Regions from separate parts of the Homo sapiens genome. Here region 2 is linked to region 1. The links come from fine-mapping of genetic effects on gene expression. Tissue or cell type: pancreas. Region 1 holds a variant in brackets; the other region holds the start of a gene. All regions are shown on one strand. Distances are between the middles of the regions. Region 1 holds the start of LOC124901318 (a long non-coding RNA gene). Region 2 holds the start of RRP36 (ribosomal RNA processing 36).

Region 1 (5,366 bases):
CCAACCCGCACCGGGCCAGCAAGCTGACGGACCACAACCCCAAGACCTATTGGGAGTCCAACGGCAGCGCCGGCTCCCACTACATCACCCTGCACATGCGCCGGGGCATCCTCATCAGGTAACTCTCCCACACATGTGCTTTGCCACACACGTGTGCTTTCCTGTGACGCCCCTGTGTTTGTTTTGGGGGAAGCACCACCCCCTGGACTTGGCCATGGGCCCTGTCTACAAGTTCCAAATGGTTTTTCCTCCCCACTCCCAGGCAACTGACTCTGCTTGTGGCTAGTGAGGACTCGAGTTACATGCCGGCCCGAGTGGTGGTGTGCGGGGGTGATAGCACTAGCTCTCTTCACACGGAACTCAACTCGGTAGGACCCCAGGGCCATTAGCCATTACTCCACCCCTCACAGGATCTGCCCTCCTGCTTCTATCTGGCCCTATCCTACTTTTTTCTAACTCCCACCTGTCTTGAGCCCCACAGAAAGTAGTGTCCTTTATCCCTGTGCTTGTGCCACCAGGCCCTGAACAATGAGGGTGGCATGAGGACAGCTTTGTCAGGACCCTACACATCCCAGGGCTGGGGAAGGGAGGGAAACAGTGAGGGGACTGGAGCCTAGAGCCAACTTGGCTCTGCATGTGTGGAGGTGACAGCTTTCTCTGCCCCCTGCCAGGTGAATGTGATGCCCTCTGCCAGCCGGGTGATCCTCCTGGAGAACCTGACCCGCTTCTGGCCCATCATCCAGATCCGCATAAAGCGCTGCCAGCAGGTGGGGCCAGGGATGTGGGGTGTGGCCCTGGGTAGGGGGCTCTGAGCCCCATAAACAGGCAGATCTTAAGCCAGAGGACCAGCCTGGGTCTCGAGCAGCTCCAGGGGTGAGGTTCGAGGGCGTAGCTGACCCCAGCCCATCCCAAGGTGTGGAGCGAGTGAAGATAGTCCTGTGTGTGTTTCAGGGTGGCATTGATACGCGCATTCGGGGGTTAGAGATCCTAGGCCCCAAGCCCACGTTCTGGCCAGTGTTCCGGGAGCAGCTCTGTCGTCACACACGCCTCTTCTACATGGTTCGGGCACAGGCCTGGAGCCAGGACATGGCAGAGGACCGCAGGAGCCTCCTGCACCTGAGTTCTAGGTGTGTGAGAGTGTGCGTGTATGCTTGTGTCTGTGGGAAAGGTAAGGCTATTGCAAATAGCTGGCAGGCAGGGGTCCATAGAAGCTGTGAGATGGAGGTTTAATATGCGTGGGGAGGGGGCTGGAGTTTTCTGAGCTGTGGGAGGGGAAGAAAGGATAAAGAGAAAAGATTTCTCCAGTGGGCTGGGAATGGGATATACCAGTTAGCACAGAGCAGTTCTGAAGTACCAGGGGGCCTTCGGTTTGGGTGCTGGGGTTAGCTGGCAGTCTTAGGAAGGGTGGACACTGAGATAACATATGCTTCAAGCCCCTGACACCTTCCTCCTCCATTCTCACCCCCAGACTCAACGGTGCTCTGCGCCAGGAGCAGAATTTTGCTGACCGCTTCCTCCCTGATGACGAGGCTGCCCAAGCTCTGGGCAAGACCTGCTGGGAGGCCCTGGTCAGCCCCGTGGTGCAGAACATCACCTCCCCTGGTAACCATCCTGACATCTGGACCCATTACTATCTCAGGGCTTGGTTCCACTAATTAGTTCCTTCTTGCTCTACCCTAGAACCACCTGGATTATGTCCTGGCCCTTTTGGCACCTGCATTTGTAATCCCAGTGCTGTCTTCTCACAGCCCAGGGGCTGCCCCCTTTCCCATGTCTCTCAAGTGTCAGGGGACACCATAAGTGCTGGAGGTGCCTTGTTACCCACTCCCTTTATCATTCTTCTTTTTTTTTTTTTTGAGACAGATTTTCGCTCGTTACCCACGCTGGAGTGCAATGGCATGATCTTGGCTCACTGCAACCTCTGCCTCCCAGGTTCAGGCAATTCTCCTGCCTCAGCCTCCCAAGTAGCTGGGATTACAGGCATGCACCACCATGCCTGGCTAATTTTATTTTATTTTATTTTATTTTTTTGAGACAGAGTTTCGCTCTTGTTGCCTAGACTGGAGTGCAATGGCGCAGTCTCGGCTCACTGCAACCTCTGCCTCCAGGGTTCAAGTGATTCTTCTGCCTCACCCTCCCAAATAGCTGGGATTACAGGCATGGGCCACCATGCCCAGCTAATTTTGTATTTTTAGTAGAGATGGGGTTTCTCCATGTTGGTCAGGCTGGTCTCGAACTCCCAATCTCAGGTGATCCACCCGCCTCAGTCTCCCAAAGTGCTGGGATTACAGGCATGAGCCACCGCGCCTGACCCACACCTGGCTAATTTTATATTTTTAGTAGAGGTGGGGTTTCTCC[G/A]TGTTGGTCAGGCTGATCTCGAACTCCCGACCTCAGGTGATCCACCCACCTCAGCCTCCCAAAGTGCTGGGATTACAGGCATGAGCCACCGCACCTGGCCTTTTCTATTTTTTTATGCTTATTTCTTATTTTTAAAGATGGGGTCCTGCTATGTTGACCAGGCCAGTCTTGAACTCCTGCCTCAAGCGATCCTCTCATCTCAGCCTCCCAAAGTGCTGGGATTACAGGCGTAAACCACCCTACCTGGCCCCCCTTCCTTGTATCATTCCGTCCAGTTGCTCTATCTCCACACTCCTGTTCAGCCCAACCACTCCCACTTCCCTGCAGACATGGCTGTGCCTTGGTTTGTTTATCTCACCCTCTAGATGAGGATGGCATTAGCCCCCTGGGTTGGCTGCTGGACCAGTACCTGGAGTGTCAGGAAGCTGTCTTCAACCCCCAGAGCCGCGGCCCAGCTTTCTTCTCGCGGGTGCGCCGTCTCACTCACCTGCTGGTGCATGTCGAGCCCTGTGAGGCACCCCCTCCTGTGGTGGCCACTCCTCGGCCCAGTGAGTAGTGGAGATTCAGGTGGGGAGCTCTAGTCAGGAGCGTTTTCCTGGGCCCCATGTGTACACCACAGGCTTCTGTCCATCCCCATCCTTCCCCTCCCTATGGGCTCAGCCTGTTCATCTTCCAGGTTTGTGTCACCTCCATCCATGAACATCATTTTGGGTGGCAGCATGTCAGGAAAGGCCTCAGGGAACCCCCTTGGATGGGGACTTGGGAGTGGAGGGGCTGCACCCTCCTTGCCTCTGCCACTTTCTTGGTCTCTACAGAAGGCAGAAACAGAAGCCACGACTGGAGCTCCTTGGCTACCCGGGGCCTTCCAAGCAGCATCATGAGAAACCTGACGCGCTGTTGGCGGGCCGTGGTGGAGAAGCAGGTGGGCAGGAGCAGGCCTGCGGGAGAGAGGGGACACCATAATGGTGGCATGTTGGGTTGTGTCTTCATGCTCCTGCCCCTTCCTTCCAGGTGAACAATTTTCTGACCTCATCCTGGCGGGATGATGACTTTGTGCCACGCTACTGTGAGCACTTTAATATTCTGCAGAACTCAAGCTCTGAACTGTTTGGGCCTCGGGCAGCCTTCTTGCTGGCGCTGCAAAATGGCTGTGCGGGAGCCTTGCTGAAGCTCCCTTTTCTCAAAGCTGCCCACGTAAGCCTCTACCCTTGCCTCATCCTTGGGTCTCTTCCGACAAACTCTCCCTTCCTCACCTCCTCCAAATGACCCACCCTTCCATTCCCATTCTATGATGAACATATGTTAGTATATAGCCATGTTATAAGAAGTTTAAAAAATTGAAAAAAATAAATAGTGGCCAGGTGTGGTGGCTCATGCCTGTAATCCCAGCACTTTGGGAGGCCGAGGCAGGCAGATCATCTGAGGGCAGGAGTTTGAGGCCAGCCTGGCCAACATGGCCAAACCCCATCTCTACTAAAAATACAAAAATTAGCCAGGCATGGTGGCACATGCCTGTATTCCCAGCTACTTGGGAGGCTGAGGCAGGAGAATCGTTTGAACCCAGGAAGTGGAGGTTGCAGTTGCAGTCAGCCGAGATTGCACCACTGCACTCCAGCCTGCGTGACAGAGCTAGACTCATCTCAAAAAAAAGAAAAAAACAAAAAAACCCCCCACAATTGATGAGCTAAAATGCAAGAAGCACCCTGGAAAGCAGGGTACAGAGCAGCAGGAACATGAGGCTCCTTGTGTAGCCTCCAGTCCTAGTTTATCAGTGACACTGCATCAGGACCATCTTTGTGTATGTAACTTACCTCCTTGTGTCCGTCTTTCTTTCTCTCTCTCTTTCTCCCTTCCTGCCTTCCTTCCTTCCTTCCTTCCCTCCTTCCCTCCTTCCCTCCCTCCTTCTCTCCCTCCCTCCCTCCTTCTCTTTCTCTCTTTCTCTTTCTTTCCTTCTCTCTTTCTTTCTTCTTCCTTTTTTTTTTTTTTTTTTTTGAGACGGAGTCTCGCTCTGTTGCCCAGGCTGGAGTGCAGTGGCTCGATCTCAGCTCACCACAACCTCCGCCTCCCAGGTTCAAGCGATTCTCCTGCCTCAACCTCCCAAGTAGCTGGGATTACAGGTGCATGCTACCACGCCCAGCCAATTTTTGTATTTTTAGTAGAGACGGAGTTTCACCACATTGGTCAGGCTGGTCTCGAACTCCTGACCTCGTGATCCGCCCGCCTCACCCTCCCAAAGTGTTGGGATTACAGGCATGAGCCACCTCTCCCTTCCCTTCCCTTTCCCTTCCCTTCCCCTTCCCTTCCCTTCCCCTTCCTTTCCCTTCCCTTCCCTCCCCTCTTTTCCTCTCCTTTCTTTTTCTTTCTCTCCCTTTCTTTCTCTTTCTTTACTTCTTTCTTAACAGGGTCTTACTCCCTCCCACACTGGGATGCAGTGGTGCAGTCACAGCTCACTGCGGCCTCAACCTCTTGGGCTCAGGTGGTCCTCTCAGCCTTCTGGGTAGCTGGGACCATAGGCGTGTGCCACCATGCCCAGCTAATTTTTTCGTATTTTTAGTAGAGATGGGGTTTTGCCATGTTGCCCAGGCTGGTCTCCAACTCCTGGGTTCAAGCCATCTGCCTGTCTCAGCCTCCCAAAGTGCTGGAATTACAGGCGTGAACTGCGCCTGGTCTTATTTTCTCATTTTGAATGATTATTATTAGTTTGATTTTTTAGACACAATGTGAAAAGACACTTTCCATAATTGTTAATATTGCTAATTTGTACAATGGTTAATGATCTTATAAAATAGTTGTATGAAAGCACCAACCACCTTAGAAAGCTGCCAGCATTCATATCTACTTTCCAGACCCTCATCCCTCCTCCCCACTCACCTGCTCTGCTCGCTCATTCATGGCTTTCCTGTGCTCTGCCATTGCTCAGGTGAGTGAGCAGTTCGCCCGGCACATTGACCAGCAGATCCAGGGCAGCCGGATCGGTGGAGCCCAGGAAATGGAGAGGCTGGCACAGC
Region 2 (5,366 bases), 22 kb after region 1:
CAGTGTCCTGGTCCACATGCTCAGCATCTCTCACCTCAATCAGTGCTCTAGCCTCCTAGTCTCCCAACCACCAGCCTCACTCCTCTCAAAGCTATGCGCCTCAATTCAGCCTGAGAGAGGCATCGAAAATAAAATCAGATCTTATCACTCCCACACATAAACTTCAGATCATGTTACTCCTACAGGCAAAAGTCCCCAATGGCTTCCATCTTGCTCACAGTAAAAGCCATGTACCTTAATAATGGCCTGCAAGCCCCCAAGTGACCTGGCCCCTGTCATATCTCTACTCTACTCATCTCCTTCTCACTCCTCTCAATGTGTCTCCTAGCAGCATATTCCCACCTCAGTTCCTCTGCACATGTTGCCTCTGCTTGGTACACTTCCCCCAGAAACTGTACATAGGTACAGCTCCTCCCTCAGTTCCTTCAAGCCTTTATTCAAAATCACCTTCCCAAAGAGGTCTTCTCTAAGTTATTTAAAATTGCGACCCCTCGTCCAGGTGTGGTGGCTCACGCCTGTAATCCCAGCACTTTGGGAGGCTGAGGCAGATCAATCACCTGAGGTCAGGAGTTTAAGACCAGCCCGGTCAACATGGTGAAACCGTCTCTACAAAAATACAAAAATTAGCTGGGCATGATGGCAGGTGCCTGTAATCCCAGCTACTCGGGAGGCTGAGGCGGGAGAAGAGCTTGAACCTGGGAGGCAGAGGATGCAGTGAGCCGAGATCACGTCACTGCACTCCAGCCTGGGTGACAGAGCGAGACTCCATCTCGGAAAAAAAAAAAAAATGCAACCTCTCCTAAGCTTTATTTTTTCTCCATATCCTCTATCACCTTAAAAAAAATTGAGCTATAATTCATATTCCACAAAATCCAGTTCTCTAGTCTACAATTCAGTGTTTTATTGCCTTTTAATGTAATAATTTACTTGTCTCCCTTAAATTTTACTTATTTATTTTGAGCTGGACTCACTCTGTCACGAGGCTGGAGTGCAGTGGCGCGATCTCGGCTCACTGCAACCTCCGCCTCCCAGGTTCAAGCGATTCTCCTGCCTCAGCCTCCTCAGTAGCTGGGACTAAGGCACGCACCACCAAGTCCAGCTGATTATTGTATTTTTAATAAGGACGAGTTTCACCATGTTGGCCCAGATGGTCTTGATCTCCTGACCTTGTGATCCGCCCACCTCGGCCTCCCAAAGTGCTGGGATTACAGGCATGAGCCACACCTGGACTTAAATTTTATTTATTTTGAAAAAAGGTCTTGCTCTGTTGCCCAGGCTGGAGTGCAGTGGCCTAATCACTGCTCACTGCAGCCTCGACCTCCTGGGCTCAAACTATCCTCATGCCTCAGCCTCCTCAGTGGCTGGGAATACAGACGTGGGCCACCACCCTGGCTAAATTTTTTTATTTTTAGTAGAAAAGCGGGTCTCATTATGTTTACCAGGCTGGTCTTGAACTCCTGGGCTCAAGCGATCCTCCTGCTTCAGTCTCCCCTGGTGCTGGGATTACAGGTGTGATCCACCACACCCGGCCAGGATAGGAGTGTTTGACTACTTTATTCACAACTATCTCCAGCAGCTAGAACTGTGCCTTAACAAAAAGCCTGCAGCATTTGCTGGGCACAGTAATCCTGTAATCCTTGGGAGGCTGAGGCGGGTGGATCACTTGAGCCCAGGAACTGGAGACCAGCCCTGGCACCTGGTAACATGATGAGACCTGGCTGGGCGAGGTGGCTCACGCCTGTAATCCCAGCACTTTGGGAGGCCGAGGCGGGCGGATCACGAGGTCAGGAGATAGAGACCATCCTGGCTAACACGGTGAAACCCCATCTCTACTAAAAATACAAAAAATTAGCCGGGCGTGGTGGCGGGCGCCTGTAGTCCCACTACTCGGGAGGCTGAGGCAGGAGAATGGCGTAAACACGGGAGGCGGAGCTTGCAGTGAGCTGAGATCGCGCTACTGCACTCCAGCATGGGCAACAGAGCGAGACGCCGTCAAAAAAAAAAAAAAAAAAAAGGTGAGACCTTGTTTCTACATTAAATAAATAAATAAATAAATAAACAAACCCATCCGTGCAGGCGTGGTGACGCGCCTGCAGTCCCAGCTACTCGAAAGGCTGAGGTAGGAGGATCTCTTGGGCCCGGGAGTTCGAGGCCGCAGTGAGCCGTCATGGTGCAACTACACTCCAGCCTGGGCTACAGGGCGAGACTTTGTCTCAAAAAAATAAAAAATATAAAAAATTTAAAAAACAGGCTGGGCGCAGTGGCTCACGCCTGGAATCCCAGCACTTTGGGAGGCTGAGGCGGGCGGATCACGAGGTCAGGAGATCGAGACCATCCTGGCTAACAAGGTGAGACCCCGTCTCTACTAAAAATACAAAAAATTAGCCGGGCGTGGTGGCGGGCGCCTGTAGTCCCAGCTGCTCTGGAGGCTGAGGCAGCAGAATGGCGTGAACCCGGGAGGCGGAGCTTGCCGACATCGCGCCACTGCACTCCAGCCTTGGCGACAGAGAGAGACTCCGTCTCAAAAAAAAAAAATTAAAAAAACAAAGTCTACGGAATCTGCTGAATTCTGATCTACTAAGCCTTCAGCAGCCATGCATGCCTTTTCCTGCCTCCATGCTATTGCACATACGTTCCCCATCGCCGAAAACCCTCATCCTGCCGTGAAGAAACTTCTCAGGATGTCCTAATCCCGGAAGCATCTACTCTCACCCCCCACTTTCCACTGCACTGGGGGCACCCCTAGTGTAGCGTCTGCCTCTTAGAGAACTTGGCAGTCTTACCGGCACCGTCTCTGCAGGCTCAGGGCCCCGCCTGGGAATCTCCTTCCCCTCCCCAGCCCGCCCTGCCCCATGCCCTCACCCCTCAATAGGTCGCGGGCCACGGCCGCGGGCTCCAGGCCCCCGCCGTCCTCCTCGCGGTCCCGGGCCCCGCGGGGACGTCGGGCCCCGGCCCCGGCCCCGGCCCCGGCGCGGTAGTTAGCTCCCGGCATCAGCTGGCAGTAGCGCTCGGAAGACGAATGGCGCCGCTTCCGCTCACGGCAGCCCCTGCCCCGCCTCTTCCGGCGTTCCCGGTCTCAACGTGGTGACGAATGGGCAGAAAACTGCGCGGTCGAGGGCCAGGGAGCCGGGCCCAAAGGATAACCCGCTCTGGAGACATTGTCGCAACCTTCTGCCCGAGTCGCAGGGTGCTGGGTTCCACGCCCGAGAAGCTTGGACCAGGCCTTGGTGGCATTTGGTTTCCTAATACCCTTGGCTGAGAAGCCAGAACCTCAGGGTGCTTGTCCTCGGCACCCTGCCCCCACTGCAAACTCCAGCCTTCTCCACCATATTCCACAAAAACACACAACACGTTTGGAGATTTTAATTAATTTTTATAAAATCTGAGCTGGCTGAACTTCAGAGTACAGCGACAGCTCAAGGAAGGGTGGGATTTATCTGCTGGTCCCCACCTCCCCAAGACGGGGAGAAGGAGGTCTCATGCCAACAGCTGCAACTCCTTTCAGCTCCCAGTCAAGGCTCAAGGCTCAAGCAGAGGGGAGGGGATAGGCAAAGGGGGAGGGGGAAGCTCCTGAGGCTCAGACACTGCTTGCTTCTCCCTTCTCCCCATTCCCTTCCCTTCCCAGCAGAACCTGGCTGGCCCTGGGCAGAGCTGAGGCCCAGGAGCAGCTGAAAGGAGGTGGATGGGGACAGAGCACCAAGGGGAAGGGGCCCTCGGCCCAAGGGGGGAGGAACCTAGCCCCCACCCCGCTACAGCTCCCCACTGAATTCACAGCACAGAGAACACCTCTCGCCCAACAACTCCACATGGAGGTATACCAAGTCCAGGGGTCAAAGGAGCAGGTGGGTGACAGATGGGCAGGGGCAGTGAAGATGACAGCAGGCTCAGGAGGGGAGGTGGCAGAAACTTCCTCCTACCCATGGGAGGAGACGATGGGGCGACTGATATTGCTGTTGGTGGTCATGGCATTCAGCTCCCACCTGGAAGGCCAACAATAAGAGACAGAAAGAAGAGGGGGCCCTCAGCCCAAGCTAAGGGATGTTTGAACCAAGCTAAAAACACACCAGTCTCTCCAACTTCCTAAAGGTCAACCACCCACAGCCACCTCTTACTTAAGAGACCTACTAGGTTGAACAATCAGAACCCACCCACCACCAAATCCAACACCACCCACTCCTCTACCTCCAAGCTCATATGGATTTCCGGTTTATGTTTATGTATGTATGTATATTGCAGTGTCCAGGCACCTGAGATCTGTGTATACATGTCAGTCAACATCCCAACCTGCCTTTCCTGCTTTGCTTAGAGCCAACCAGGCAGCCCCTCCACCTTACCCTCACCAGGAATGCCTCACCCCACCAGGAATACCCATTTTTGCTCTTAACTCCCATCCTTTTAAGGCTCTGACTCAGCACTCCTATCCTTCCTGAGGCCTTCCCCACCCACCCAACCATATTAATTTTTTTTTTGAGTCTTGTTCTGTCACCTAGGCTGGAGTACAGTGGTGCAGTGGCACAATCTTGACTCACTGAAACCCCCGCCTCCCGGGTTCAAGCAATTCTCTTGCCTCAACCTCCCAAGTAGCTGGGACTACTGGTGGCTGCCACTATGCCCAGCTAATTTTTGTATTTTTAGTATAGACAGGGCTTCACCATGTGGCCAGGATGGTCTCGAACTCCTGACCTCAACTGATTTGCCCACCTCAACCTCCCGAAGTGATGGGATTACAGGTATGAGCCACCATGCCCAGCCAGCAAGAGTTAAACTGAACTGATACAAAGAGACGAAGTATCTCAGAATGACCCAGACAGGAAAAATTATATACAAAGTAACATCTGGTGGTTAATTTGAACCTGAAAAATTATACATAAAGTAACATCTGGTGGTTAATTGGAACCTAAGAACGAAATTCAAAGGGAAGCAGCCAGATCTTCTGGAACCAATGTGATCCAGAGGCTCCTAAACTTGTCTTTACTTTGCAGCTAGGTTCTAAGATTTAATCAGTTGTTCTCAGCATGGTCACAAAAATAACTGTATAAGCTTAGGTCTCAGAAAGTGATGCTGCCGAGCTGTATTTTTTTTTCATATAATTTATTCTGCTGACAGTTTTATATGATGGCTGTCAATTCACCTCCTTCCATCTCATTTCCCACAAGTACACTACATCTCCAGCAGAACAAAAATGTCTGTCTCCTCCATACTGAAACCAAGCTAATCAGGTCACACCTGTGCTGCTCACTCACCCTCACTCAATCCCTCCCTTCCAACCACTCGCTGTACCTGATATCATGAGGCAAACAGGACTGGTCTAGGTTATACTGAATCACGGCCAGTTTGCACAGAGTCTTCAGACTAGGGCCTTTAAG

The links. PIP is the estimated chance that this variant, and not a neighbour inherited with it, causes the effect.
Region 2: it holds the start of RRP36, and the variant in region 1 is the best candidate, but not a certain one, in a credible set for the expression of RRP36 in pancreas (GTEx, PIP 0.65).

The regions. Positions count from the first base shown.
Region 1 is chr6:43,040,988-43,046,353 of GRCh38, reverse strand. CUL7 (cullin 7) reads left to right here. Exons shown (of 26, transcript NM_014780.5): 12 at 1-118; 13 at 263-368; 14 at 672-767; 15 at 952-1,127; 16 at 1,469-1,602; 17 at 2,724-2,906; 18 at 3,174-3,280; 19 at 3,370-3,552; 20 at 5,279-5,366. LOC124901318 (a long non-coding RNA gene) reads right to left here and starts at 5,318. Exons shown (of 2, transcript XR_007059581.1): 1 at 5,230-5,318; 2 at 1,208-3,296. RefSeq lists a silencer at 342-533. The variant G/A (reference allele first, on the strand shown) is at 2,359.
Region 2 is chr6:43,019,281-43,024,646 of GRCh38, reverse strand. RRP36 (ribosomal RNA processing 36) reads right to left here and starts at 3,024. Exons shown (of 7, transcript NM_033112.4): 1 at 2,863-3,024. The coding sequence starts at 2,992. It overlaps KLHDC3 (kelch domain containing 3), which reads right to left. Exons shown (of 11, transcript NM_057161.4): 10 at 5,281-5,359; 11 at 3,353-3,980. The coding sequence ends at 3,914. RefSeq lists enhancers at 2,009-2,740, 3,123-3,172, 3,233-3,342, 2,741-3,472 and silencers at 2,823-2,892, 2,903-2,952, 2,963-3,032.